Homo sapiens: one gene and its partners. The protein of the gene in region 3 purifies or fractionates together with the protein of the main gene of each other region. This does not show direct contact. Each region holds a gene or a part of one and is shown on either strand. Other genes may lie near its edges.

Region 1 (6,549 bases), on a different chromosome or scaffold from region 3:
GAAAACACTTAGGTTATAACTTGGGCAACATGGTGAAACCCTGTCTCTATTAAAAAAAATACAAAAATTAGCTGGGTTTGGTGGTATGCACCTGTAATCCCAGCTACTAGGGAGGCTGAGGTGGGAGAGTTGCTTGAGCTGAAAAGTTGGATGTTGCAGTGAGTTGAGACACTACACTCCAGCCTAGGGGGCAGAGCAAGATCCTGTTTCAAAAAAAGGAAAGAAAGAAAAGAAAACCTAGTTATTTCTTTCACTTTCAATTCTACATCCATTCTATCTGATGCAAATCATATTGATTTTCTATTTCATTGGCTCTCAAATCGGTTTCCTCCTTTTCATTTTCACTATTCCTTCCCTTGTCATACTATTCACATGACAGCTAGGCATAACTACTCTTCCTGACTCCCTAGAATTTATACCAAAGTCACCAACTGTTAGATTAGTCAACATATCACCAGCAAGAGACACAAGTCCATATTTTTCAGCTTGCAATCAGAGTTCTTCCCAATCTGATTCCCAGTATAATTAATAGTAATGCACTTACGGGCTTACCACAGATCAAGAGCTGGGATGTTTTCCACATACCATATCTAATTTATAATTCTCACAACAATCTTAGATTATAAATAATTTTGATCTCATTCTGTGAGAAAATTACTCCAAACTTTATGTCTAAATGTATCTTCCACCACTCACAACCATGTGATGCCCATGGCCAAATCAGGTAATTGATTTGCGTGGTTCTGGAACTTGCTTTTAGCCTTTACTCTGCTCTTTCAGCATCTAATCACATGTCAATTTCATTCTCCTGACAAGTTTGCTCATCAGTCGGGACCCAACTCAAATTCTAATAGTTCTGTGAAATTCTGTCCACATTCCTCACCCACCTTCTAGGCTCCTTAAGGGGTGAGATCAATTTTATCTATTTTTCCATCCCATTAAGGATGGAAAGGTCTTACATAGCATAATACCTTTAATAGATTCTCCCTCTCCACGTCTATTTTCTGATCTTTTGTTTGCTTTTAATAATGAACACTCGAGTAGATATATCCTTCTTTCTTTGTGATTTCACTTGACTTAGCATGAGTGCATATCTTAATAAAATTAGACTTCCTATGGGCCTCATTTAACTCCAAATATTCTTGATATTTTTAACAATAGGATAAGTGCATCTCAAAACGTTCATAAGTATTGCACCTTTAAGAGACATTCAGAATTATTCTCAAAGGCTGTAGAAACACGCCAGTATATTAAGTACCACATAGAGAATATTAATTTAGTCAATGGATTGCATGCCAAAAATGAGGAAGAGAACTGAAAAAATATTAAAAAGTGAGATGTGAAAATTAGGAACAGAAGGAAAAAATAAATACATAAAACAAGACAATTCTCTACATTCTTTTGAAGAAATGAAACTACAAACCAGACACCAAGATCTGGAAGATTAGCTTTGTACTAATCCTGGAATTTGCTTTTACTTTCCTGTCTTTGGCCTTTGCTCTGATGTTTCAGTATCTAGACTAATGCGAATTTCATTCTTCAGTTTAAATCAGCACGTCAGTCAGGGATTCATCCAAACCTTAATGGCTTAGCATTTTCCTCAACTGTTTTATTTGGAGCAAAATCGCCACGAAAGTCATTTTTAAGGGTCAATTCAATTTTATGATAATTTATATATTATGCCAGACGCTTAAAATATGCCTATTACTACCCTAAATTCCATTCTTACAGTACTAGGCTGCATTTTAGACATTTGCTGCAAATGACTTTATCTTGAAGTCTACGTGATTACACAAATTATTATAAATACTCATGACAGATTTACTGAGGTGTAGGCAAGGAAATTAAAAAATAAATTTTATTAATTACTGTATTTTATGTTTAAATTATAGTGTCTCCACTTCCGTAACATTGCTCCGCAGTATCCCACCTAGAGGGACCTGCTTTCACGCACATCTCCCTATTTTAAACAATATCCTTTCATCCCAAATCTGTAACTAGGACAGTTGAGAGTCAGTACCAAAATCTTTGATGATATTTGAAATTCTTTTACATAAAAAAGTAAAGGCACAAGCACTTTTTCTTCTACTTTTCCACTCCCCACGTCCTCTCCAAGCCTAAAGACTCTTAGGCACTGAGAAGGAGTCTGCACTGCGGGATGCCCACTGGAATTACCTACTGTGGGCTGAATCCGCCCCACACTCTCGAAGGTGCTACAACCCTTGCTCTCACCCGCGGCCCCCAGGCCTCTCCTCCAGGCATTCTTGAGCCCAGGGAAAAGCGAGGACGGGACCACGGCCCCGCTCGGCCTAGATCCGCCTTCTTCCCAGGTGAGCGTCGCTGTCCTCCGGGATCGCTCCTCGCCCCAGACCAGGAGCAGGGTGTCGGGACTTGTAATTGCCCCGTAGCCCCGAGGGCGGGCAGGAAAGAAAGGCTTTTTCATACTCCGCTGGGAGAGAGCAGGGTGTTTGAGTTCAGACAGGTTCCGAGCGCTTTCTGGCTGTTCGGGGTTTGGCGTGCCACCACTTGGGACTTGTTGTAACCCGTCTCCACTCCCGCCCCCTCCAGCGCTGCACCTTGTCTCGGGGAGGCGCGGTTCGAGCCGGAATCAGCCTCCCTCCGCGGACCTGACGCTGGGCAGGTAACTCCCCTCCCCTCCCTGCCCGCGCCCAGGCGCTTGCTGCTTCCTGGGAGGCAAACCTTCGGCGGCCGGCGCTGTGCGGCGGGCGCGGTTGCGCGCGGCTTGGGGCAAGTAAGTGGGGTTTGGGCTCCCTTGCCCCGGACCTCGGCGGACGGGACCCCAGCGGGTGCAGGGTTGAGGTGCTTGGGGTACTGGGGGGGCCCGGGGCTTCACCCGCCCCTGGCCGGCGCGGCGGACGGGAGGGATAGGGGACTCTCCCTTGGGAGCGCAGGCGGGATTGGAAATTCCACAGGGTGTAAAGCTCAGTTGCTTCAGTCTTTTCTACGTTTCTTTCATTGTCGTGGGGGTTCGAGTGAGTTGAGAAGTTTGAAAAGTTGTCTCGGGCGGAGTCGGTTTGGGTCCCCAGAGGACTGGCGCCGCCCCTCGTGGAGGCTGCATTTGTTTCCTCTTTTCCAGTGTAGGAGTGCGCCGAGGACCCCGGGAGGGGAAGCGGGAGGAGAGACCGCTGGGAAAAGTCTCGTGGGAGGAAGTCCAGGGTGGAAGCAGAGGGCATGGGGGTGGGGGGTTCCGGGAAAAGGTGGGAGAGCTTAGGTCGCTGAGGGGCGTGGGTGTTCTTTAGATCCTGAGTGGGGAGCAGAACTTGAAAAGACAGTTTTTTCACACAACCTCTTAATTGTACAGGATCCCGTTTCTGAGTGCAGACTGGTAGCGACCTGTGTTTTTCATACTTGGGTCGGCCTGAGTCTGGGTCTGTGTGCCCTAGCAGCTCTCCAGGAGAGCCTGTACCTACCAAAGTTTGAGAACCACTGCTCTAGATCCTGGTGAGTGATCTAGAAGAGGAGAGTAGGCCTAGAGCAGATTGCTCCTGGAACGGGACTTGGAGACTTTTGGCCTATTCTGTGTGATATGTGGGGAGACTTACCTGTGTAAGGTTAATGGACAGGCAGAGAATGCCTGTGTTCATTGCAGGAGTCATAGGTATGTAAAGAGACAACAGCGCTTTCTTTATAGGAGGAGGCTGGGAGGTTATGGAAACACAGGTTAGCATGTTGTCTATGCTCGGAGCGGTGAAGTTATAGGGTCTCTCTGACCTAGAAGTGGAAATGAGAGCTCAGGCGGCCAGAACACTTAAGAAGAAGGTGTGCGGGTGGCAAGCAATTGAGGCTAGAATTTAATGCTCAACAGCTTATGTCCAAATTCCCAGTTACAAACATCTTGCTAGGTTACTGGCAGGCACCTCCCTTCTTTCCCTTTCTCATCCTAACAAGTGCAAGAGCCCCGAGGAAATCCATGACTGAGGCTGAATCATTGCTGACAAGCAACAGGAAGGGAGAGAGTGATGAAAGAGACTTAGAAGAGAAAACTGGGGTTTTTTGTTTTTTATTGGAGTGGGGGTGGGGGTGGCGGTGGGAGGCTCAAAATGATTGGAGAATGAGAATAATGTGAAACAGAATGATGGAAGGTTGGGAGTGCAGGTCTTTGTTGCGTTTGTTTCTCTCTGTCTTCCTATAGTTCCCAGAAAAGTAGAAGTCCCCACACCTTCCAATTGCAAATTCCACCCCCTTGCCTTTGGGGCTCAGGCACACGTGGGGTATACACCTATTTAGGGTGCTGGCTACACCCTCTAGAGCCTGCCTAAGGGGCTGGGTGGATCCTGCCTTTAAAGCTGGCAGGCTTTAGACCGCAGATGCTGAGAATTTATTGTGGGAAGCATTACCAGTTGAACAGTTGCTGAAAGAGATTGTATAGATGGAGACAAACCACACCTCTGGTGCTGACTCAGTGATGTCTTTTACGTTTATGCCCTTGAGTTTATGACGCTAACTGGCTAAACTTTTTTGGGATGAAGTAATTAATTTTATTAATCTTTCTATTTTATTTCCTCTACCGTCCACCGTTCTTTATAGGTTAAGGTGGAGGTTCATTCACTGAGTATTTTCTTGACCATGACTCACCTTGCAGCAACTAACCTACTTGTTTCCCATTTAATTACATTATACAATACTGAGTTGCCAAAATGTAATGTTATTATACTTTTAAGTGTCCAGAATCTTGGGGTGAAACTGTTATCCCATCAAAGCGGGACTCTTCTAATACATAAATCTGGTTGGAGGAGACCTTTTGAAAAGAGGCCACTTAGCTTAATTTAATGAATTATTGGTAAAATTTCAAGTTGTCCTTGTTTATCTAGTTAGGTAAGTTTGCACGTCTGTCCCTTTATAAGTTGCAAAATGTGAATGTCCCATGGATGTTTCACAATTCACCTTTTTAAACACAATGTTTTGTTCATTTTGAAATGTGCTTTTGTTCCTTTAATTTCTGATCTGGAGATGGAATGTATTTTAGAATTTTGTTGTTGAATTTATCATCTGAACATCAGAATACATCCGCTCCCCCATGGAAACAGAGTTCTAAATGATGGTTATTCACAGCCCAGCTTTAAGGATGCCGTAGATAAAAAGTTGTACAAATAGCACTTAAACTCCATCAAGAATCAAAGCCAACAACATTTCTCTGAGAAAATGTGTTAGAGCCTTCAGTGGGAGCTTCCTTCCCACTGAGGTGTGCCAATGGGCATGGGCACTGTCTAGAAGTATCCTGGCCCCTAAGGGTAGAGCAGGCTTCCCAAGGGGATTGGGAGGCTGAGTGCTGTGGGCTCCTGAGACAAGAGCTGGGGGAAATGGTAGGCTCCAGTGGAAAGGATATACGTGGAGGTGAGGTGGAGTGGGGGGCAAGTGGGCTGTATGCTGGGGAGGAGGGTGCACTAAGGAGGCAGGGGGCTAACATGTACAGAAGGTAGGGGTGGGTGATGGAGGGGGCAAAGGATGTTTTCAGGGGCTGTGATGCTGTAAGGAAGGTGAGCCTTGGTGGAGAGATGATCCAAATATGAGAGATATTCATTGGGCATGCTGTCTATGTTGGGAAGTCCTGGAATCACATGATCATGAACGGTAGGAAACTTTTCCTCTGGGGACATCTAATTACTACCCAGTTTGTCTTTTGTTTTATTTTTACATTGTCCTTAAGAGTGGGGTGAGAAGTCCCCTAAGGGCACATGACATTTATCTTTTCAGCTGTGTCTTAAATAATTTGTAGATTACTGGTCCATGGGAAACTTAAATTAGTCATGGTCAGCCTCTCTTGCATACTGACATAGAGTCAGGTGTAGTCTCCCGGTTACTGGCAGGGGCCTATGTTGAAGAGTTTATAGAGAAGTTATGCAGTGATGATGATTATCTAATGGCTCTAACTTTGTGCTCTTTTACACTATCCCTTTGATTAAACATATTTATTGACCATTATCTGCCAAGCAATATGTTCCTCTCCAGGGGTAGGAAAGTAAAAATATATTCCTGGATCTTAGGAAGCTTCCAGTTTAGGAACCTAATGATAATTATAAGTACACAAATAAATAAATGGATCAAGTCCACTGATTTTTGTAGTTCCTTCCTATTCTCTGAAGGTCACAGCAGACGTTGTTTGTGTTCATTAATCATTTGTGAAATTGAACATTAGCAGCCCTGGGATAGTCATGTTTTTTGACAAAGTATTAACATTCTTTAGGCTTGCAGGTTTTTCACTGGTATTGTGAAAGGTTTAGACTATGTGGTCACTCCTGTGTCCCACCCACACTGCTCTGAAATTCTCTGTGATCACTTCTTATTGAGAGTATCATAAAATAATGTTAACTAAGGTTTCCCCACAGTATCACTGTGAAGCTTATTATTTCCACTTCTTTGGCCAAATTTTCATTTCAAAAGGTTTTCGTTCTTTAACATCAGATTCCTTCTTTGATTACATAAACATTACTACTTGGAGAAGAAAAGGCAGTTTTCAAAGCACTAAAGAGTGTCATCTTCCATCTCAATGGTGGTAATAGAATAACTCAACATAAGATGTTTGGGCTG
Region 2 (6,047 bases), on a different chromosome or scaffold from region 3:
AAACTTAGAGTCAAATCATTAAAAAGACTGGTATTAACTTTTAACAAAATTACCACAAATTCAATAGAAGTTGCCAGCTAAAAACTGAGAAAGTTTAGCTTAAGCACAATTGAGACAAAGTCCCAACACATTTCCATATGTTTTTCCTTTTTTTGTTTTCATATGAGGTTATAGATTCTAGCTGTGACAGTTACAGGCAAAACTTCTTTGCAGTGAATACCTCCACACAAAGCCTGGTTGAGTAAAACAAAATTATTCCCAAGGCTTATGATGGGCCTGTGGCCATGGGGATTTTTTGACCTGCTAACAAGGAATTAGCCATGAATAATTGAGAAATTATTAAATTTATGAGAAATTGTCATTGAATTATTAAATTCAAATTAAACATATAATTATTAAAATGGAAATGCAAATAAAATTGAGGTTCTTAAGTTTTTTAAATCACTGCAAATATATAAAAAATGTTTAAAGTGCCCATGCCTCTGGACTGTGAGTCCAAGTCTCTATCCATGGCACTATACTACTTCTCATGTTCAGCAATTTCTTCTTCTTTATGTTTTAAATTACATGTTCCATAAAAATAAGAAATCACTGTGATACGGTAATTGATTTTTTCATTTTAAATGCAGCTGTTTGCCACGGAAGCCACATCAGACTGGCTCAACGCCAACAATGTCCCTGCCACCCCAGTGGCATGGCCGTCTCAAGAAGGACAGAATCCCAGCCTCTCTTCCATCAGAAAGTAAGAACTAGGCATACTGTTTTCTGAAATAATTTAGAGGATTAACTTTGAGAACCAGTATATGAATATTTCACCTTACTTGATTGCAAGTCTTTTAAAACAAATTTAAAAATGAATACATTTGTGGATGATTGTCAAGTTTCACTCTCCATCACTATGGAATACATAACGTCATGTGTACATGGTGATATGAAACGTGTTTCAAAATACTTCTTAGTAAGGATACTTTCCTTGACGGAAACAAGTGAGAGCATGAAGAATGTAATGCAGCACTTTATATTTCATGTCAAACTTATATTGTGTATAGATAAGTACATCGAGTATAAGATGACCAGCTATATTTCACTAAGGTTGTGCATAATAAATCAATTTGTTGAGCACTTACTACATACAGGAACCTATGTTGAGTACTATGATGATGTCATCCATTGGATTACCTAATTGGTCATTCCTTGACCAGGTTTTCATGCCTTAGACCATGTCATCATTAGATTTTGTACGACATTTTATTTCAGCAGATTGTGTGAATCTTCAGGAATACCATTGCATCAACCCTTAAAGATCTATGTGGCATAAGTACATAGGAGATAATTCTCTGCTGTTTTAAGATAGTGCAGCCTACAGAATGGCTGTGCCATTCTATGCAATATGTTATTTGTTAGCGTTCTTGAGAAACCAACACATAAATTATTATCACTTTAATAAAATAATGGCATTGTGTTCAAACCTTAGCAGGCCTCCAAGGATGTAATAGCTCCGTGTTTGGGGCATTGTAAAACAATAATTAGCACTACTAAGGAGGCAATAGAGTTAATGTGGGAGTGGGAACATGGGGGTGAAAGGGCATTCAATGGTGGAGGGATCACCTCTTTTTAAAAAATAAGTATCTATCAAATTACCAATTCTTAATGAGTGAACAGATAGCATTTTAAAGAGAAAACAAACATCTGCATTCCATTAGACTTGCACTAGAATTCCTTCAAGAACACAATATAATCCCTATATAAGTGTAATTTAAACATCTACTTAGCAATAGAGGAGGGCAGATGGCAGTCAACTCAGCATGGCATTGACTTGAATGGCTAAGAGAGCAATTTATGTTAGTATTTTATAAACTAACTATAAAATATGCCTTGTTGTCTATAAGTTTTTGTTTATTTTTCCAGATTGATTAGAGATGGCAGCATTGACCTAGTGATTAACCTTCCCAACAACAACACTAAATTTGTCCATGATAATTATGTGATTCGGAGGACAGCTGTTGATAGTGGAATCCCTCTCCTCACTAATTTTCAGGTATAGTCTTTTCCTTGGATATAGACTGGATGGGAGTTTTATTTCTGTGCCTCCCTTAAGAGTGTAATCAGTAGATGCACATCTCTCTTTTCCCCTCTTTGTAACTTTCAGAATAGAGAGGAATTTTTAATAATCTAAAATAATGATGCTAACATGGTAGGTCATGGCTTAAATGGGACAGTTGGTGATCAAGCAATTGAGATAATCAAAGGCCATGAATGGCCATGGCTCTCTCCTTACAATTATCCTTTGAATAAAAAGTGACAGCATGACATGGAATAAAGATACAAACTTTTATTTCATTGTTTCTAAATGAAAGCCACCATATAAAAGCAACAGGTTAATGATGGTCCAGATGTAGCACAAGTGCTTGTTCAATTCACAGAAAATGATTGCATGAGGCATGTTCAGTTTCACTTGGACATGACCCATCGAATTTATCACAGGGAGAAACAGAGTGGAGACTCATTAACTTTCTGCCTATCATATTTATTTTTTATGCAGAATCAGTTTTAATCCCTATGGGAGGAGAAATAAGCGTATTCACAGTGACATCTGAGATATAAAAGAAAGTCCCCATGGTGAGGTCTGAGACATGGGAGAAAGTCTCCATTACATAAAAAACTTTTATGCCTTTTATCCCATACCCCTTTGAAAACTGGGGACAGACACTTGTGACTTTTGTCTTCATTCATTAAAAATTCACTTTTATCTCATGGAGGGTGCTGATTCCTACCATTATATTTTCAGGTGACCAAACTTTTTGCTGAAGCTGTGCAGAAATCTCGCAAGGTGGACTCCAAGAGTCTTTTCCACTACAGGCAGTACAGTGCTGGAAAAGCAGCATAGAGATGCAGACACCCCAGCCCCATTATTAAATCAACCTGAGCCACATGTTATCTAAAGGAACTGATTCACAACTTTCTCAGAGATGAATATTGATAACTAAACTTCATTTCAGTTTACTTTGTTATGCCTTAATATTCTGTGTCTTTTGCAATTAAATTGTCAGTCACTTCTTCAAAACCTTACAGTCCTTCCTAAGTTACTCTTCATGAGATTTCATCCATTTACTAATACTGTATTTTTGGTGGACTAGGCTTGCCTATGTGCTTATGTGTAGCTTTTTACTTTTTATGGTGCTGATTAATGGTGATCAAGGTAGGAAAAGTTGCTGTTCTATTTTCTGAACTCTTTCTATACTTTAAGATACTCTATTTTTAAAACACTATCTGCAAACTCAGGACACTTTAACAGGGCAGAATACTCTAAAAACTTGATAAAATTAAATATAGATTTAATTTATGAACCTTCCATCATGATGTTTGTGTATTGCTTCTTTTTGGATCCTCATTCTCACCCATTTGGCTAATCCAGGAATATTGTTATCCCTTCCCATTATATTGAAGTTGAGAAATGTGACAGAGGCATTTAGAGTATGGACTTTTCTTTTCTTTTTCTTTTTCTTTTTTTCTTTTTGAGATGGAGTCACACTCTCCAGGCTGGAGTGCAGTGGCACAATCTCGGCTCACTGCAATTTCCGTCTCCCAAGTTCAAGCGATTCTCCTGCTTTAGACTATGGATTTCTTTAAGGAATACTGGTTTGCAGTTTTGTTTTCTGGACTATATCAGCAGATGGTAGACAGTGTTTATGTAGATGTGTTGTTGTTTTTATCATTGGATTTTAACTTGGCCCGAGTGAAATAATCAGATTTTTGTCATTCACACTCTCCCCCAGTTTTGGAATAACTTGGAAGTAAGGTTCATTCCCTTAAGACGATGGATTCTGTTGAACTATGGGGTCCCACACTGCACTATTAATTCCACCCACTGTAAGGGCAAGGACACCATTCCTTCTACATATAAGAAAAAAGTCTCTCCCCAAGGGCAGCCTTTGTTACTTTTAAATATTTTCTGTTATTACAAGTGCTCTAATTGTGAACTTTTAAATAAAATACTATTAAGAGGTAATGCAGTTGAATCTGGTTTTATTTTATGTTGCTGTACAAAAATCAGTTTACTTCTATGATAAAATAGGGTTTTGGGCCAGGATTGCATTGCTTATTTATTTTTTCCATGCAAACCCATATAGGGATGAGAAAATTAATGTTAAAAATAAGTTTTAGCTGTCACATTTTTCATTTTTTCTTGTCCCTCCCTTGCTTTTAAGTCTCATCATAACATTATGTGGTTATATGGCTATAAACCATCTTTGATCTGGATCCTTTCTAATGTATAACTACAACCACAAACTGATTAAAGATTGCCACAAATATATAGTAAACTTTCAAACAAATGTCTTGCATAACTCAGAAAAGTAACTTAACCCAATCAGAGGCTGACCAGCATTGTCTGATGGAAATAGTGCCAATGAGCACACTGATGCCATATCCCCAATTTACCACCGAAACTATGGCTTTGTGAAGGTCCTAAGATAATTATGCTATAACAGCTTTTATTTCTTCCTTGTTACCTCACAGTCAATTGATTACCACTTTGTATAGCTCTAGACGAATGCTTAAAGTAATTCATCTTCTCTCCCCCTCACTTCCTTGTTCTTCCTGTGGTCAAGACTTTCATTACTTCTTCCCTGTAATCTTTTTTTTTTTTTTTTTTTTTTTTTGAGACGGAGTTTTGCTCTTGTCACCCAGGCTGGAGTGCAGTGGCGCGATCTCAGCTCACTGCAACCTCCATCTCCTGGGTTCCAGCGATTCTCCTGCCTCAGCCTCCTGAGTAGCTGAGATTACAGGTGCCCGCCAACAAGCCTGGCTAATATTTTGTATTTTTAGTAGAGACGGGGTTTCGCCATGTTGGGCAGGCTGGTCCCCTATAATCATATAATTATGTAATCCCTGATCACTTTGATTCATTCACCTGAAAATATTTAATGAGTTTCTTCCATGTTTCATGTAGAATATATCACAATCTCTCCTACTATTATTCTAGCATGTTTCTGTTACATATCACCAGCACCACAACCACCATCACCATAATAATTAACATTATGGAGTCCATACTATTTTTCAGGCATTTGTAAGTACTTTACATGAGTTAACCTAGTTAATCCACAAAATATCCCTGTGAGTAGGTGCTGTTATCTCCATACTATAAATAAGAAAACTTAGGCATACCAAAGTTAAGTAACATGCTCAAGGTCACACGAAATGGAGTCTCACTTTTCTGTATCATATTCTGGTGAAGGTAGGCATGTAAAAAGAAATCATTTCTCACAGTAAAGAAAATAATTTGCCTGCAGAGATCAGGGAAGGGCATTTTAAGGAGATGGATTCATGTGTTGCCTTGAATAAGATCTTGCAGTTGCCAAGGAAGACTAGAAGGTAAGGACATTTAGGAAAATGACAATGACGTTGTTATGACTGGAGCTCAGGGTATGTGTGGAGGGAAAGGGCTAGTAGCAGAAGTTGAGACTGGACTCTTAATGGTGGATGTTTAAACTAGGTAGAAGTTTTAAAACTTTTTATTTGGAAATAATTTTGGATTTAAATTTTAAAAGTAAAAAAATCCCCAGATCTACCTATTGGTAATATTTTACTTCATTTGCTTTATTCTACTCTTATCATCTATTTCTCTATCTAAACACACTTGACACACATACATATTCACAGAGGAAGATAAAAATTACATGTTGACTAAAAGTGAGCAGGCTGTTAGTGACCAATTTAGATATGTAACTCAATGTTTTAAATAAACAATTGTTTGCTGAAACTGTCAAAAACTCAATTAGTTAATCATTGTATTGTGAGAATTTAATAAAGGGTCCTAATTTTTATATTAATGTGAGCCGGCTATTTGTAAGATATGGTAAAATTTGAAGATTAATAATAATTAATTTAACATTGTGTCTATATAAACTCTGTTTTTTGTTGACAAAAGGGCTTTGGAAAACCAGAAGACAGGATAGACCTCATGGTGCTGAAAATGGAATTACATTAATTTTTGTTTTGGTTGCCTTTCTGTTTTCCAACATTCCAAACTTTAAAAAGACTTA
Region 3 (6,628 bases):
TGAGCTTTGAAGAAAGTGTAGACTTGGGGACAGGCAGAGGAAGAGGGGGCATCATAGGCAGCAGAAACCACATGGACAAACTCTCTGCCGGAGAATGGGCATGGCCGGGCTGAGGGGTCCCTGGACAGGAACCAGCCTTCCCTATGCACCTGCACCCGTGAGTCTCACAACAGCCCCAACAGGCAAGTGTTATTTTCCTCAATTCTACCAATTAAAAACTGACCTTGGGCAACTGCTTAACCTATCTCTGCCTTACTTTCTTCATCTGTATCTACCTCAGAAAGTTACTATGAGGACTGAATAAGCTCATACATATACAATGCTTGGAGCAGAGGCTGGTACTAGAGCTGGCTTCATGGGCATGAAACCTGTGAACACAGAACCCCATGCTTTCATTTTCCACTTAGTCCTGCCTGGCATAGTATGCAGTTTTTTTAATTTGAGATGGAGTCTCCCTTTGTTGCCCAGGCTTGAGTGCAGTGGCGCGATCTCAGCTCACTGCAACCTCCACCTCCCAGGTTGAAGCAGTTCTCCTGCCTCAGCCTCCTGAGTAGCTGGGATTACAGGTGCGCGCCACCATACCCAGCTAATTTTTGTATTTTTAGTAGAGATGAGGTTTTGCCATTTTGGCCAGCCTGGTCTTGAACCTCTGACTTCCATGATCCACCTGCCTCTGCCTCCCAAAGTGCTGGGAGGATTACAGGCATGAACCACTACGCCTGGCCTGGTATGTGGGTTAAAATGTTAGGTTTTATCATTATCTTAGGTGGAGAATAACAAATCCGATTCAATATATTCATTTTAGAAACGAGGAAACTGAAGCTTAGATAGTTTGTGTGACTTGCAAAAAGTCACGCAGCAAACAAGCTGCAGAATGAAGGGTGGAGATGGAGAGATAGAATTCTCATCTTAGAGGTGAAAGTAGGATAATGACCCAGCTGAGCTTGCTGAGTCCTGCGAGCGTCGCACGCCCCCAGAGACAACATAAGGAGAGAAGTGCAGACAGATTCCTTTGAAGGAGCTTAGAGAAAGAGATGGTAGGGAAAAGAGCATGAACAGTTGTAGAGGTAGGAGGAAAGCTGGCTATTTGGGGAAGCAAAGAAAAGATTCTCAGAGTAAAACGTATTGGTGAAGCCATGGAAACAAGGACTGAGAAAGTCTCTTGGATCTTGGCCACAAAAAGGTTATAGATGAGCTTAGAGAAATGAATTTCAGTAGAGTTAGGGCTAGAAGCCAGGTTCAGAGAGAGAAAACGAGAGAGCATTCCTGGTGGTGGAGATGGCCGCAGGCCATTATTTAAAAAGCTAGGATAAGAAAATAGAGAAGAAAGGGAAGGAAGCTATTTGAAGGGAGTGGGAGAAAAGCCAGATCTCAGTTGGGACGTGGAGGAAGGACCACCAGAGGCAGTAATTTAGCCGGAAAGAGGTGTATTTCTTTCCTTGAGTTTATAGGGGGTAAAGAGGATGGGGCTGAGATACTAAAGACTACGAGGACAACTGTTCATTGAGGGCTGGTCATCTCCCCAGCTGCACTGTGGGGTTCCCAAGTCAGACATCCCAGAGGCAATATAGCAGCGTGGACAAGAGCTTACTCGTTGGAGTCAGACCGCCTAGGTTCAACGATGGGTTAGTTAGCCCTTCAGTGCCTCCATTTTCCTATCTAGAAAATGTGGATAACAATGGTTGTTGTGAAGATTAACAGCCATAATCCACGTAAAGCCCTCAGTACAGTGTATGACACACAGCAAGTGTCCACCAAAGGGTAGTTATTATTAACCATAATCCTGGTTCTCTTGTGAGCTGCCTCCTGTGTGTCTAGCATTGGCCAGCACACATGAGGGGGTCCAGTGTTTGCTGCTTAACTAAGTAGCTTCTCAGGAAGTGTGGTCATAAAAAATGATAGGTGATTTAGAAGGTGAGACAGACACAAGGGATGTGTTGCACAGTAAATGCTCCCAGACATGCAATAAATGCTTATAAGCATGCCCTCTGTAATCAGCCCTCTTTAGAGAGTTTCCCTGCCTCATTGCTCTTGGTCTTTGGCAATGGCTACACCCACTGCCCAAGCAAGCAGTATCAGCTGTCAGCTGTCCCCTTGTCTTTTGGATCAGATTCCTTTACAGGGATCTTCCCATTGTTATAAGCTTCAAGAATTGGAGAATGCTTAATGAACACTTCCAAATTCTTCATAGCTATGAGGGGCCAGTGCAAAGGGCGGAAGGAGTTCTTCTGTGTCACAGAAATTAGAGCTGGAGCAGATCCAGCTTGCTATCCCCCCTTCCCCCAGCTTGTGGGTTATTGCAGAATTGTTCACAAAAATTCCCATTGCCTTGGAATTTGTCCAAGCCGAGGGCAGGGATCACAACACAACCTCTCAAGGGAAAAAAGGAAGGCCTGTTGCTTGAGATGGCTCAGAGCACTTTTGGTAGCCAGCCAAGGCAGCTATCACTCATGAAATCTGCCTTCCCCTCCAGCAAAAAGCCAACTGTATAGAACACCACATATAGAGCGCTAAGAATAGCACAGCGCTCCAAGAACATAGTGCACTTGGCCTGCATACAAGTGTGCAGGGCTTAACGAGTCTTTTTACTCTGAAAGCTGGGTGGGTTGGAACAAACAAACAGAAAAATATTTTCCCCAAGTAGCATGCAGAGAGGAAATGAGAGCAAGCACAAGAGAGCACCCTGGCATAGCATTCTCTGACCTGGGCTGCCTTTTCAGGGTATGAGTTGATTCCGCAGGCACCAAGGCATGCCTGTAAGCCCTACAGGGCAGACGCCCTCACCCCAATCATTGGCTTAACATTCACACCAGGCTGAGTAAGCCCCAAAAGTCCTGCCATTGGCTCTGACAGGAATTGAAACCCATCTTCTCCACAATAAATATTTGATTGACAGATTGGCTTCCTTCCTATAAGTATAGAAAGCGAGGGCAGGTTCCATCCAAAGCCGCAGTTCTGGGTGATGAGAGCTCTGAGAGCCCAGAAAAGACCCTGAACCACATCCCACTGTTTGTTGGAAGAAGAAACTCATTTGTGGGTCTGTTCATAAAAGAGTCTGGGAAGATAGTCTCCTTAACAGTGTCTGGATGTAACAGACTATGGGCGGCTTTTACTTTATAACTTTCTATATTGTCTGAAATACAGAATATTAAATATTGAGTTAATATTATATTTACTCAATGTTACTTTTTTTTTTTTTGAGACAGGGTCTTGCTCTATTGCCCAGGCTGGAGTGCAGTGGTGTGGCTCACTGCAGCCTTGAACTCCCAGGCTCAAGCAATCCTCCCACCTCAGCATCCCAAGTAGCTGGGACTGTAGGCGCAGGCCACCATGCGCAACTATTTATTTTCTTTCTTTTTGTAGAAATGGGCTCTGCCTGTGTTGCTCTAGCTAGTCTCAAGCTCCTGGCCTCAAGCAATCCTTCCGCCTTGGCCTCTCAAATTGCTGGGATTACAAGCATAAGCCAATGTGCCTGGCCTCAATGTTACTTTTATGATCAGAAAAACGGCCATCTTATTTGGAAATTATTTTCCTATTCTCAAGTGGGCAAATAGGAGAAGGTTTCAGGCATTTGTTTTGTCTCTGGGAGGGAAGGCACAATGAGGTGGAGTGGACAAATTGCTGAGGCCTTTATGGACAAAGATTCTAAGAAGAACAGGCTTTGGCCATCTCTGGATATTCCCATTCTGCTCCCTGCCACCAGAGAGCAAATGTCGTAGGTCACCACACATCACCAGTCTCTTGCCTAGCTAACCGTAACTCATTCTTTAGTTCTCCTTGAAGGTGTCACTTCTTCCAGGAAGCCATTTCTGTCCCTCCCGAGATGGAGTCCCATGTCCCTACCATTTGCTTCCAGGGCACCTTCTCACAGCACTGCATCATGGTTATCTGCTTATCTGCTGGACACCCCTACTCGACTGAGGTCCTTGAAGGAAGAGAGAGTGTATCACTCATCTGCATAGCCTTTGTAACTTAGTAAAAGTGCCTGACATGCTCACTAAACATTTACTGAGTAATTATTTATTTGGGGGCCTTTTACGATCAGAACAATGTGAAGGACACAAAGATGAAAAAGAAACCATCTGCTTCAAGGTACTTACAACTGAAATGTATCAAACAATTACCCAGAAAGTCAAGCACCAACTTAAGTGCTAAAATAGGGGTCCAAGCAACCAACTTTGAAGATTAGGAAGGTTTTAGATTCTGAATGTTTCTCATTCATTGTGTTTTTGAGTTCAGAATCCCCATACTGGAAGGCTAATATGGGGTATGTGCATACAATTTTAAGGACTCACGTTCTTACAACCTATATTAGAATTTGACGCACGATCTTTCTTCTGTCCTTCTTGCAGTTGCCCTAGGAATACATGCCACTTACTCTTAATTGACGTTTATGAAATACCTTGGCTTCATTTGCTGAAAGGCTCTAAGTGTTGAGCATTGTTACTATGTTACAATGGTTGTTTTATTATTAAAGCAGTGCCAAGGAGGTTACACAACAGCTTGGATCAGGAAGTGAAACAAGGGCGGTGATCCCACTGAAGCTACAGGGGATGGGGATTTGGGACGGTAAAATGTTAATTACCCAAGATGGAATGTGGGCTAGAGTCCAGCGTTGTGCTCCTGGAGATCATTTCGGTCGCAAAAGCTCACTGGCAATGGGTCCTAAGCGTCCTGCCCTCCTCTGGCTGAAATGTTGGATTCACTTCGATGAATGCTGCTATAGGGAAAGAACCCAGTGGCCACCAGCCAGGAGCACACGTCTTGCTCAGCATCAACTATCCTGGAAGATTTCCAGGAGCTGAAGGGCTGTTCTCTTTGCATGCAATAAATTATTCATTTCTAAGACGATTTATTCTGTCTCTCTCTTTAGACTTGATTTCTCCTAGTTTTCCAGCTCTTGAGGACTCTCTCCAAAGAATGAGTTGTAGATGGTTGGTCAGGGGTTGCGAGTGGTGCCTAGGCTTCGCATAAAAGGAGGCAGAAATGTCTACCTTAAAGGGGAGAGGAATGGGTCCTGGGGAGGAAGATGTGGTGGAGGCAATGACAACCTTTCCATAGTAAGTCCCCAACAAAGTCACTTCTAGAAACTGACTGAAGACTTTGAGTTCCAAATGAAACGTTTTTAAGATGCTAGGTTGGCTGACAAGTACATCGTCTAAGGTGGAGGCACTAAAGCATAATAAAAAGAGTGAAGTCTCTGCAGTTTGACCCAGGACCAGATGCCAGGCCCACCAACGACTCTGTATCTGGATGACCTTGGGCAAGTTTTCTAAGCTCTCGCCAGCCTTAATTTCCCATCTATAAAAACTGGATACTGCATTACTCCCAGGTTTAACCAGATAATGTTTGTGAAGAAAGCAGCCCAATACTTGGCACAAAATAGGCAAGGGAGTCACTATTATCGTCAACTACTGGCCAAACAACCAGAGTTGACCCCAAATCCCCAGTAAACAATTAACCGTAGCAGAGCGAATCCGGATCTGACGCACCTATTTGCCCAATAAGGTGCCAGGAAATAACACAGTGGAGTCAAACCAATGGTATTAGCCCTTGTTGATGGACGGGCTTTCTTGCTGTTCCACCAATAGCTTGAAGATTTGACTGGGGAGTGACATCCTGACAGTCCAATGACGCACAACCAGCCCACACTCAGCACTTCGGAGGGGATAAATCAAGGAGCCGGCACGTATGGATTCCGTTATAGGGCAGTACTGGTTGGAGAGAGGAGCTTAGGGAAACAGCGCCGAGGCAAGGCACTAATGAGCTAAAAATAAAGAAAAAAGACGATGGTTGCGCCAAGCGACCTCGGCCGCCATCATGCTCTAATTTCCCCTGAGTCTCTCTGGGTCCTCGACCGAGGAAGCGGCCTCTGGGATGCTGAGGGGGTGTGTCCCCACATGATTGGCTCAGGCAGCTCAGCCAATCCTAGCTCGTTAAACGGGAAGCACTTAACCAATGAGGGGCGAAGGCAGCAACGAGGAATTGGAGGGGCGGAACGACAGCTTGACGGGCACAAAAGCCAGCCAGTGAGAGCCGGAAGCATCCTCCCTGCGGCCAATGGAGTGGGGCTCTGGGCGGGCCCCCGAGTGTTTGTGTTGTGGTTTTGGGGGAGGGATGCGGAGGGGAAAGTTTGTTTATTTTGTTTTTAGTTTTTGGGGTCCCCGTGCTGCTGCAAGGCGAAACGGGAGGGAGTGACCCCTGCGCCCCTCAGTCCCCCCTACGACGTCGCCTCCATAGTCTGCGGAGAAGCGGAGACTGCGCGCCTCGCCTCACAGCGAAACGCCGCGCACTCGGAGCCGGCACGGCTCGGCGGTGAGTGAGGTGCGGCGGCCGCGCCGTCCTTCCCCTCCCCCGCGCCCCGCCGGGACGGAGCGGGGCGGCCGGGGGTCGGCGAGGGCGCCCCCGGGGGCGCGCGGCGCGGCCCGGGGCGGTGAGCGGAGGCGCGGCGTGTGCGTGTCCTCGCGAGGGAGCGCGCGTGGGGCGGGGAGCGGGCCGGGGAGGGGGCGTGAGCGCGCGCGGGGCTGGTGCGGCCGGCGGCGCTGAGCGCGCGCTCCGCGGGAGCGGGCGCCGCCGAGATTTGAGTCGAGGGGCGGGGAGGGACTCGGGGCGACGTCCGGCGCGCGGG
Region 4 (6,047 bases), on a different chromosome or scaffold from region 3:
GTCTATTGTGTAATACGTTGCTGAAAACTGAAGCAGTTCATAACAAATGTTTATTATATCATAGAGTTTCTGAGACTCAGGAATCTGAGAACGGCTCAACTAAGTGGTTGTAGTTCAGGATCTCCCACAAGGCTGCAGTCAAATAAAGGGTCGTTGGAGCTGGAGAATCCAGTTCCAAGCTCACTCACGTGGTTGTTTCTTGACAGCTGCATAGGGCAGCTCACAACAGGGTCCTGGCTTTCCCAAGAGCAAGAGAGAGAGCAACAAGATATCGGTCCCCGTGTCTTTTATAGCCTAAACTCAGAAGTGACATCCCATCTCCTGTCTATTCATTACATGGACCAACCCGGTACAATGTATGAGGAGACTATAGAGGGTCCCCAGGAGGTGGGGATCACAGGGGCCACCTTGGAGGCTGGCTTCCACAGTATTTCCCAGGAATTTATTTTTTGTTTCTGTCTCCCTCGGTCAGTCTCAAAAGTACTTAATGGTTGGAGTGTTGATGTGTAGTGCCGGCTAGCATGCTCCCATTCCATCTTCAGAGGTGACTTTCCCTTAGGCACTACTTTGATTATATTGTTAGTCCTCTATCTAAATCTCATTTTACTTCTTATTGGCTACATCATAATTTACTGCAGAACTTATCCTGTGTTTAGTGCTTTATATGTATTAACTAATTTAATTATTTTAACAGTCCTGTGAGGTAGATACCATTAGTCTCATTTTATGGATGAGGAAACTGAGGCTCAGCAGAGAGGCTAAGTAATTTGCCTAAGGTCACACAGCAGTTAAGGGAAGAAGCTAGGATTTGTATCCAGGTAGTCTGCCCCAGACCTTGCTTTTGTTCAGGCTCTCAGCCTGTTATTCACAGCCTCCATAATATCTGTGTCTTATTCCTTTACAGCTTTGCTCATTATTTATCTTATAGGTAAACTAGACTACTGCGTCACTGTACTTGCTTGCCCCTTGGTGGTAATTGCGTATGTTCTTGGTTTGGAATAATGCCAGTTCTCCCATTTCTGCTGATTGAAACCTTTTTTTTTTGAGACGCAGTCTCGCTCTGTCGCCCAGGCTGGAGTGCAGTGGCGCGATCTCGGTACAGGCGCCAGCCTCCACACCGGGCTAATTTTTTTTAAATTTTTATTAGAGACAGGGTTTCACCGTGTTAGCCAGGATGGTCTCGATCTCCTGACGTCGTGATCCGCCCGCCTCGGCCTCCCAAAGTGCTGGGATTACAGGCGTGAGCCACTGCGCCCGGCCATGAAATCTTAATCATCCATTGAGGCCTACTTCAAATCCCACCTTCTCCCAAATTATCCCAGCTATAAATGAACTTTCTTCTGTATGTTCTTGGTTTGGAATAATGCCAGTTCTCCCATTTCTGCTGATTGGAATCTTAGTCATCCATTGAGGCCCACCCCAAATTTCACCTCCCAAATTATCCCAGCTGTAAATGAACTTTCTTCTGTAGTCTGTGGAATTTTATGTAAATAACTCTTACTATTCCATGTCTTACATTAGGTTTATTTGTGTCTACACCTTTATTCCCTTATATTCTAGACATTTAAGATTAGGGACTATTTCTTCAGCCCATATTCCCCAGAATACCTGTCATATCCCTTGTATGTACTAGATATCTGATGAATTAATGAAAGGAGAACTAGTTTAGAAGATTTGCAAGTATTCCAGGTGTGAAGAAACAGGAGGAAATACCCTAGTCCGAAGACTCGGATATCTGCCTCAGCAGTACAGCTGAATGATTTTGCAGTTTTGGACAAGCCACACAGATATATCACGACTCTTAAGATGAAAGGTGGTGTGGTTATGGACTAAGGTGGTGGAATTAGGAATAGAATAGAAAGGACTGGGTTGACAGACTACAAATGGAAGGTGAGATTTAGGCAACTGCAATTGAAAGAGGAAGAGGAGGAAACCCATGGTGATTCAGAAAGTCGAACCTATGAGAAGTGAGAAAGTTGTTTGCCTCTTAACTGATGTTAGGATATATAGATATATCCTATATATCACATATATAGATATGTGGTATTTAAGTCCCAGGGAGATTAGGGCAGTCAGTTGCTCAAAGGCTGGGGTATCTTAGTTCTTTCCTCACTCCCCTCTCCTCCATGAGTTTCTCCTGCCCTAGCCCCTCACTATCCCTTAACATGCTGTGATTCTTCCCTTTGTGCCTTGTGTTCTCCCTTTCCTTATGAAGTAGCCAAGGACGACCACATATACTCCTGTTCTTGGGCAGCAGCTTGCCTTTTGAGATTTTCTTTTTTTTTTTTTGAGATGGAGTCTTGCTCAGCCACCCAGGCTGGAGTGCAGTGGCCCGATCTCGGCTCACTGCAACCACTGTCTCCTGGGTTCAAGTTCTCTGAATAGGGCAATATACCTAACATTGAGTTGTCGTTTCTTTATAAAATGGGGTTAATACCTATATTGCTGGGTTGATGTGAGGATTAAATTATGAGAATGCATGCGATGATATACCGAGCATATAAACACTCAATAAATGTTGGTGATAATGAAAGCAATTAATAATGAAACACCATGATAATTAAAGAAATCATATGAGGACAAAGATATTGTACATCCTCTACTGCTTTGTCTCTAGATTTCCCTGGAATTGCTGTCTTTCAGCTTCTTGAACAAGAAATAGGAAAAAGGCTCATTTTCAAGTTTTTCAGTGATGGCAGGAAATTCTCATAGTTATCTTGGTAGGAGTACCTCATGGTTCCAGTTTAAGGCCTTGATAGTCTCATTGAATGATTTACTGGTGGCTCTACATCTCAGAATTAGACTACTTAGTATTGACATCTCAGTTGTCTTTTTTTTTTTTTTTTTTTTTGAGACAGTCTTACTCTGTCGCCCAGGCTGGGGTGCAGGGGTGCTATCATGGCTCACTGCAGTCTTGAGCTCCTGGGCTCAAGTGATCCTCCCATTTCGGCCTCCTGAGTAGCTGGGACCACAGGCCATGCCACTGTGCCTGGCTAATATTTAAATTTATTTTGTAGAGATAGAGTCTTGCTGTGTTGCCGAGGCTGGTCTCGAATTCCTGACCTCAAGCCGTTCTTTCTCCTTGGCCTCCCAAAGTGCTGGGGTTACAGCGTGAACCACTGTGCCTGGCCTAGAGGTTGTCTTATTCCTCAAACCAAAGGGAAAGAGAGGAAAGAGAGCTTTTATTGAAAGCTTTCTATATGTCAAGCACTTTGCATAGAGTACCTCATTTAAGGGAAAACATGTTTTCTTTTTAGTCAAAATAATACATGTTCATAGGTAAGGTAAAATAGTACAAAAAAAGTTTGTTGTAAAACTCAGCAGTCCCTTGCACATCTCATTCCATTTATTTTTATTGAGATAACTGTAAATTCACAGACAATTGTGAGTAATATAGAGAATAATTGTTTTATAAACTAAATCTGGAGGCTGGGCCTTGCTAGATCAAAGTGTTGACAGATTTCATGTCTGGTGAGGGCCTGCTTTCTGGTTCACAGACAGCCATATTCTTACCATGTCTTTATATGGTGGAAGAGGTAAAGGAGCTCTCCAAGGTCTCTTTTATAAGGGCATCAATCCCGTAACTTCTAATCACCTGCCAAAGGCCCCACCTCCTAATACCATCAGGTGATCTGCCCGCATCGACATCCCAAAGTGCTGGGATGACAGGCGTGAGCCACCATGCCCGGTCTGAAGTTTTTTTTTTTTTAATACAACATAAAACTCTCATGATTTATCGAAGTTGTTGTGCATATCAGTAGTTTCTTTGTCTTTTTTTTTTTTTTTTTTGAGTTGGAGTCTCACTCTCTTGCCCAGGCTGGAGTGCAATAGCGCGATCTCGGCTCACTGCAACTTTCCGCCTCCCCAGTTCAAACAATTCTCCTGCGTCAGCCTCCCAAGTAGCTGGTACTACAGGCACCTGCTGCCATGCCTGGCTAATCTTTTGTATTTTAGTAGAGACAGGGTTTCACCGTGTTGCCCAGGCTGGTCTTGAACTCCTGAGCTCAGGCAATGCAATCCACCCACCTCGGCCTCTCAAAGTGTTAGGATTACAGGCATGAGCCACTGTGCCTGGCCAATAGTTTCTTTGTTTTAATTGCTGAGTAGTGTTCCATATAATGGATATACCAGAGTTTGGATTAACATTTATTATTGAAGGACCTCTAGGCTGTTTTCAGGTTTTGGTTATTGCAAATAAAACTGCTATAAACATTTGTGTACAGGTTTTTGTGTGAACATAAGTTTTCATTTCTCTGAGATAAATGCCTAAGTATGTAATTGCCAGAACCTATGGTAATTTGATGTTTAACTCTATAAGAAACTGACAAACTTTTCCAAAGTGGTTATATCTGTATAATTTTGCAGTCCCATTGGCAATGTTGTTATTCAGTTTTATAGATAATAAAATCTACCCTTTTAAAGTGGAAAATCCAGTGGTTTCTAGTATATTTACAGAGTTGTACAAATGTTCCTAATTGTAGAATATTTTCATGACCCCAAAAAGAAACCCCATAGCTATTACTAGTCAGTCACTCCCCATTCTCTCTTCCCTCATCCATTGGCAACCACTAAGCTACTTTCGGTGTGTATGGATTTGCCTATTCTGGACATTTCATATAAAGTGTGGTCATTTTGTGACTGGCTTCTTTCATTAAAAATAATGTTTTCCAGGTTTATACATGTTGTTGCATGTATCAGTACTTCATTCCTATTTATTTTGAATAAATTTTTTATTGCATGGACATACTGCATTTGAAAAATCCATTTATTAGTTGATAGACATTTGGATTATTTCCACCTTTGGGCTGTTAAGAATAATGTTGCTTTGAACTTTTTTTTTTAATTGAGATCCGGTCTCATTATATTGCCCAGGCTGGTCTCAAACTCCTGGCTGGGCTCAAGAGATCCTCCCATCTCAGCTTCTCAAGGTGTTGGGATTACATCCGTGAGCCATCGCACCTGGCCTGCGTTGAACATTTGTATATGCATTTTTATGTAGACCTAAGTTTTTCTTTCTCTAGCAGTGGAATTTTTGGGTCACATAATAACTGTATGTTTACATTTTGGATAACTGTTAGAATTTTCCAAAGTGGTTGCACCTTTTACAGTCTCACCAGCAAGGAATGAACATTCTAATTTTGCCACATTCTTGCTAACACTTGCCATTGCCTGTCTTTTACTTTTAGTCATCCTAATGGTTATGAAGTGTTACCTCACTGTGATTTGGTTTGCAGTTCCCTAATGAGATTGAGCATCTTTTCATGTACTTATTGGGCATTTCTGTATCTTCTTGAAGAAATGTTTATTCAGCTTATTTGGCTGCGTTTTCATTGGGTTATTTGCTGTTTTATTGTGGAATCACGAGTTCTTTAAAATTCTGTATACTGTTCCCCTATAAGATGTATGATTGCAGATATTTTCTCTCATTCTTTGGGTTTTCTTTTCATTTTCTTATTGAAGTACAAATGTTTTTAATAATTTTGATGAGGTCCAATTTGTTTTTTCTTTTGTTTCTTGTGCTTTTCGGTGTCATGTCTAATAAATCATTGCCTAAACCAAGGTCACAAAGATTTATTCCTATGTTTTCTTCCAAGAGTTACAGTTTTAGCTCTTACATTTAGGTCTGTGATTCATTTGGAGTTAATTTTTCTACACACTGTGAGGTAGGGGTACAACTTCATTCTTTTCGATGTGGATACCCAGTTGTTTCAACACTGTTTGTTGAAAAAATTGTTCTTTCTCCTTGAATTGTCTTGGCACTTTTTTGTTTTAATTGAAAATCAGTTGACCATAAAAGTAAAGGTTTGTTTCTGGTCTATGAATTCTATTCCACTGATCTCCATGTCTGCCTTTATTCTAGTACCATACTGTTTTAATTACTGTAACTTGGCAGTGTTGAAATTAGAAGTGTGAGTTTCTGACTTGTTTTCTGTTTTGAGATTTTTTTAACTGTTTTGGGTTCATTACATTTCCATATGAATAATAGCAGCTTGTCAATTTCTGCAGAAAGCCATCTGGGATTTTGATTTTGTTGAATATATAGACAA
Region 5 (4,204 bases), on a different chromosome or scaffold from region 3:
CAGAACCTTGTCTGGATGCTTTAATGGGGCCGTTGTCCACTCTTGAGGTCAGCGAGGGGCTTCTCTGAGCCCTCTCTGCTCCCATTCCCTGGGGTCTGGTGCCCTCCATCACTAAAGGGGTGGGGGGCACAGCTGCCTGGGGTCGGGTGGGCTATGGGCCCCGGGGTTTGTGGGAGAAAGTTGCTGATCAGCAAGGGTGTTACTCTATTGTTATACCAAAACAGGGCACTGGAGCAAACGCTTGTTAAAATGCCAGTCCCATGGGCGGGGCTGGCACCGTGCCCCCTCCCTCCTCAGCAGACACCGGAGCCGGCCTACCCCACCTCTCCAGCGTTCCCACCACTTTCTTGTCCGTTTGCTTCCAGGGTCGTGTATCAGGATGGATTTTATGGTGCTGAGATTTATGTAAGTGTAGCCCCGCCGGGAGGGAGGGTGGGATCAGGCGTTCTGTGGGTCTCAATGAGAAGTCGGCGTCTCCTCTCTCACTGCCCGCTCCTCCCATCCCATCCCATCCCACCCTTGAAGCCAGGAGGGCGAGGGTGCCACGTCTGCCCAGAGTATGGCATCCCTGAGAATCCCAGCATGGCACAGTTTGGTTGTTGGTACCCATCAAGGGAGCAGTTAATGGGCCGCCCAGCAGCCCTGTGAGCTGAAACCATCTTCCTGTGGGCAAGGCCTCATATAATGGGGGCAGTGGGACTCTGCCACGTCCCTAACCACGCTGCGGTCAGTGAGTGAGCCCCTAAGGCACCCACAGCACGGGCTGCAAGAGGGGCCAGGAGGCAGGGCCCCTGGGTGCCTGTGCTCCAGGGCCTACCCCCCTTGATGGGGTCCGGTGGCCTTTCTCCCCCTTCATGGGGCCACATGTGCTGCTTCCTCTGTCTCAGACTCACTGACGGCCACACCCCATGTACCCAGCCACCCTTCAGTCCTGGGCAGCTGCCTACAATTCAGTTACCTGCCCATTTGAGGCCAGGACATCATCTGAGCTCACGTCCTCTTGTGCCCTTTACCCTTGACCCTTCCTGGTGTCCAGGACACTATCCAGAGTCACTGTGGGTTCTCCCAGCCCCTCAGCATCCAAGTCAGGCCTCAGTGGCCTGGTGGCAGGTCTGTGAGCACCTCTTCCTTGCCAAGGCCTAGCACCCAGCCAGATGAGTCATGGGTACCCGCTAATGTGTGTGGAGTGCACAGATGGATGTGTGAATGAATGAGTGAATGAATGGAGTGGACAGGCAGACCTGCCTCGCCCTGAACTGTGCCACCTAGCCATCTGCAGTCCTCGGTCCTGTGTTAGACCAGAACTAGGTGCCCAGGCCAGGTACCACCTAATCCTTACCCAGCCGAGGCTGGGAGGCTGGGAAGGTCTGTAGTCCCTCCCAGGGCCCCACCCGCACAGGGTCTGTCTCCTCTCCCCACTCAGCCTTTCCCTGGGGAGCCCCACTAAGTCCCTCTGCTCTCTCTCCTCCCACTTACCCTGCAGGGAGGCTACGCAGCCTACAGATACGCTCAGCCCGCTGCAGCGGCGGCAGCCTACAGCGACAGGTGAGGCCGGGGGCCAGCACTGTTCTGGAGCAGGGTGGGGAGAAGATGGACAAGGATCCCTGGGGAGCTGGGCCCAGACAGGCAGGAGGCGTAACCCACTCTTCCAGGCCTGGCGGGAGTAGGGTCGGGACAGGGGAGCAGGTCTGAGTGTGGCCCTTGAGCCAGTGAGCCCCTGACTTCAGTCACTTCCTGCTTACCCCATGGGGAGGCTGTGGAAACCCCAGGTGGAGACCGCATCTCTGATTCCCAGTCCCCCCACCGCCCCCCGCAAGCCCCGTGCCCACAGTGGCTGTCTGTCTTGGAGGCAGACGCTTGAGTGCTTCCTCCTGGAGCAACCTAGCCTAGTGCCTTTCCCCTCAGACATCTGGCCTGTTGGTAGCTGAGCTCCACCACTCTGGTCTGGGGACCGCTTGTACCCCCTCCCTCCTGGCAGCCCCGGCTCCATCTCCCTGAAGTGTGGTGTACAGGGTGCCGTGGCCCAGCTCTGCTCTCTAAGGAGCTGAGAGTTCCCTGCACAGACAAACTGCTGAAGGGAAAGTCGTGAGGGACACAAGTGTCACATTCTTGGGGGCAGTGTTCCTGGTCCCTCCTCGTTGACCCTCTCTCTTCTCTTGAAACCCTCCCCAGTATTTACCACATTCTTTTTGGGGTGGAAGTTTGTTTTCCCTGCAGACGAGCTCCATGAGGACACCATCCCCCTCCACGTAGCACTGAGTGGAACACACCCCCTCCCCCCACCCCGTCAGGGTCAGCACACTGTGGGCATATTGAGAGGGTTGCCTGTTGTGTTCCAGAAGCTTCCTTCTTAACAAGAAGGAGGGGTAGGCCTTGCAGGCCTTGCAGGAGGGGAGGGTGCCTTGCAGATGGGACCTCGGTACAGGGTGCCCATGTAGTGTCTGGGAGGAGGTGGGAGGCCGTTGCTGCCCCTCACCTGCCCCCCTCCCCCACCCTCCTCCCACTCCCCCTCCCACGCTCTTCCCTAGTTACGGCAGAGTCTACGCAGCTGCCGACCCGTACCATCACACCATCGGGCCCGCGGCGACCTACAGCATTGGAACCATGGTAAGGAGCCCAGGCCCGCCCAGCCCTGGGTGCCAGTCCTAACAGCTGGGCATGGGTGGTGAGGCCCTTGGGGGAGAGGCCGAGCCCTCTGACCAATGCCTTGGTCCCGGAGACTTTGGAAGGACCACGGCCTGGATGTGAGTTAGGGTGAGGGGAGGGCTGGCCCCTCACGCCCTCTCAGTTGCGGGGAAGCAGGTTGAATGGCTGGTCAGCCCACCGTACCATCTGGTCCTCTGGAAAGCACCCCAATGTGCCTGATCCGTTTCCCTGAGCTCCCTCACTATAATAAAGTCCCGTTGAGGCCCCTCCATTCCCATTTCCACCAGGAAAACCTCAGAAACCAAACCAGGGCCGCCTCTCCTTCCCAGCAGAGGCTCCCAAGGCCCCGGGGCTGTTTCTGCCCACACCGCATACCCACGGCCCACCCGCACTGCTGCAGCCCCCTCGCATCGCATCCGAGAGGGGAGTGTGGGTTACCGGTTGCTTCTCACCAGGCTCTAGCTCCTGGCTTCCTGGGGGCTCCTGGCGTCCTGGGGAAACAGTGCCTGCTCTGCCCCAGCCTCCTCCCTCAGGCTGTGGGGTGGAAGGGGCGGGGCGGGGAGGTGCGCGGCGTGGCGTGTCTCTGTGTGTGTGTGTGTGTGTGTGTGTGTGTGTGTGTGGCCAGCTGTTGACACGTGCAGCCCAGCTCACTCTGCACCCAGAGCTGCTTCCAGCAGACACCTGCCTCCTGTACCCACTGGCCCCAGCCCCGGGGTGTGAACACGGGTTTTAGCTAGCTTGGCATCCAGCATCAAAGATGAAAACATCTTGGGAGAGTGAGGAGGGAGGAGGTTCAGAGGCAATATGGATTTTTCCCATCTTTCTTGGTTTTGATGACTCCCTCCAATTTTTTTTTTTTTTTTCAATTTTTAACGAGCCTCAGACACCCCCAGCAGCCTGTGGTGGCTGTGGGCAGCCACAGGCGCGGGTCTGGTGCGGCCCCACCCGGATGGAGGTGTGATACCCTGGCTCTTGGGCCCTCCGTGCAGCTGCAAGCTAAAAGCTTTCATTAACGCACGGAGGGTTCCCTCTTGTGTTTTCACTTTGTATTTTTAAGATTTTCTATTTTTCCCCAATTTTTCTTCTCTTGCACTTGCTGTGTTGTTCTTTTCTGGGAAAACTGGGTGGTGGGAGGGTGGGAGGCCCCTTCAGAGCCTTCCCTGACTGGAGGCAGCCCAGGACATGGGAGAGCTGGAGCATCCAGGACCCGCTCTCCCCAGTAGGACAGGGCTGGGCCTCAGGTGGGCCCAGGAGGACCCAGAGACCCCCCCAGAGAGCAAGGCTCTGAACACTATGCCCAGCAGGCTTGCCTCTCCCAGCGTAGCTGGCTTCAGTGGCCCCAGGCTCTTGAGCCAAGGCCCAGGAACCCGCCAGGAGGTCCCTCAGTGCTCTGAAGATGCCCCGTGCCACCCTGCTGGGGTGCGAGGAGGTGGGGCTCAAGCTGGGACCCCCCCTCTGCATAAGGACAGTGAGAGGCCAGGCCTGAGCCCAGAGAAGTGACCCAGACATAACTCAAGCTGTGACCTAGAAGCACTGTTGGCCATGACCCCAGAGCACC

The links.
Region 1: the proteins of FAM83F (region 3) and FAM83B purify together in Homo sapiens (affinity purification with mass spectrometry; one large-scale study listed by BioGRID and IntAct). This does not show direct contact.
Region 2: the proteins of FAM83F (region 3) and CPS1 purify together in Homo sapiens (affinity purification with mass spectrometry; one large-scale study listed by BioGRID and IntAct). This does not show direct contact.
Region 4: the proteins of FAM83F (region 3) and SPIDR purify together in Homo sapiens (affinity purification with mass spectrometry; one large-scale study listed by BioGRID and IntAct). This does not show direct contact.
Region 5: the proteins of FAM83F (region 3) and RBFOX3 purify together in Homo sapiens (affinity purification with mass spectrometry; one large-scale study listed by BioGRID and IntAct). This does not show direct contact.

The regions. Positions count from the first base shown.
Region 1 is NC_000006.12:54,844,075-54,850,623, forward strand, and holds the start of FAM83B (protein FAM83B), read left to right. Parts: upstream 1-2,696; 5' UTR 2,697-2,752; intron 2,753-5,494; exon of another isoform or gene 5,495-5,592; intron 5,593-6,549. UniProt on the Homo sapiens protein: Probable proto-oncogene that functions in the epidermal growth factor receptor/EGFR signaling pathway. Activates both the EGFR itself and downstream RAS/MAPK and PI3K/AKT/TOR signaling cascades.
Region 2 is NC_000002.12:210,675,099-210,681,145, forward strand, and holds the end of CPS1 (carbamoyl-phosphate synthase [ammonia], mitochondrial isoform b precursor), read left to right. Parts: intron 1-629; coding exon 630-742; intron 743-1,908; coding exon 1,909-2,038; intron 2,039-2,788; coding exon 2,789-2,887; 3' UTR 2,888-4,009; downstream 4,010-6,047. UniProt on the Homo sapiens protein: Involved in the urea cycle of ureotelic animals where the enzyme plays an important role in removing excess ammonia from the cell.
Region 3 is NC_000022.11:40,038,684-40,045,311, forward strand, and holds the end of FAM83F (protein FAM83F), read left to right. Parts: 3' UTR 1-4,851; downstream 4,852-6,628.
Region 4 is NC_000008.11:47,262,359-47,268,405, forward strand, and holds part of SPIDR (DNA repair-scaffolding protein), read left to right. Parts: intron 1-6,047. UniProt on the Homo sapiens protein: Plays a role in DNA double-strand break (DBS) repair via homologous recombination (HR).
Region 5 is NC_000017.11:79,092,854-79,097,057, reverse strand, and holds part of RBFOX3 (RNA binding protein fox-1 homolog 3), read left to right. Parts: intron 1-224; coding exon 225-405; intron 406-1,483; coding exon 1,484-1,545; intron 1,546-2,528; coding exon 2,529-2,607; intron 2,608-4,204. UniProt on the Homo sapiens protein: Pre-mRNA alternative splicing regulator. Regulates alternative splicing of RBFOX2 to enhance the production of mRNA species that are targeted for nonsense-mediated decay (NMD).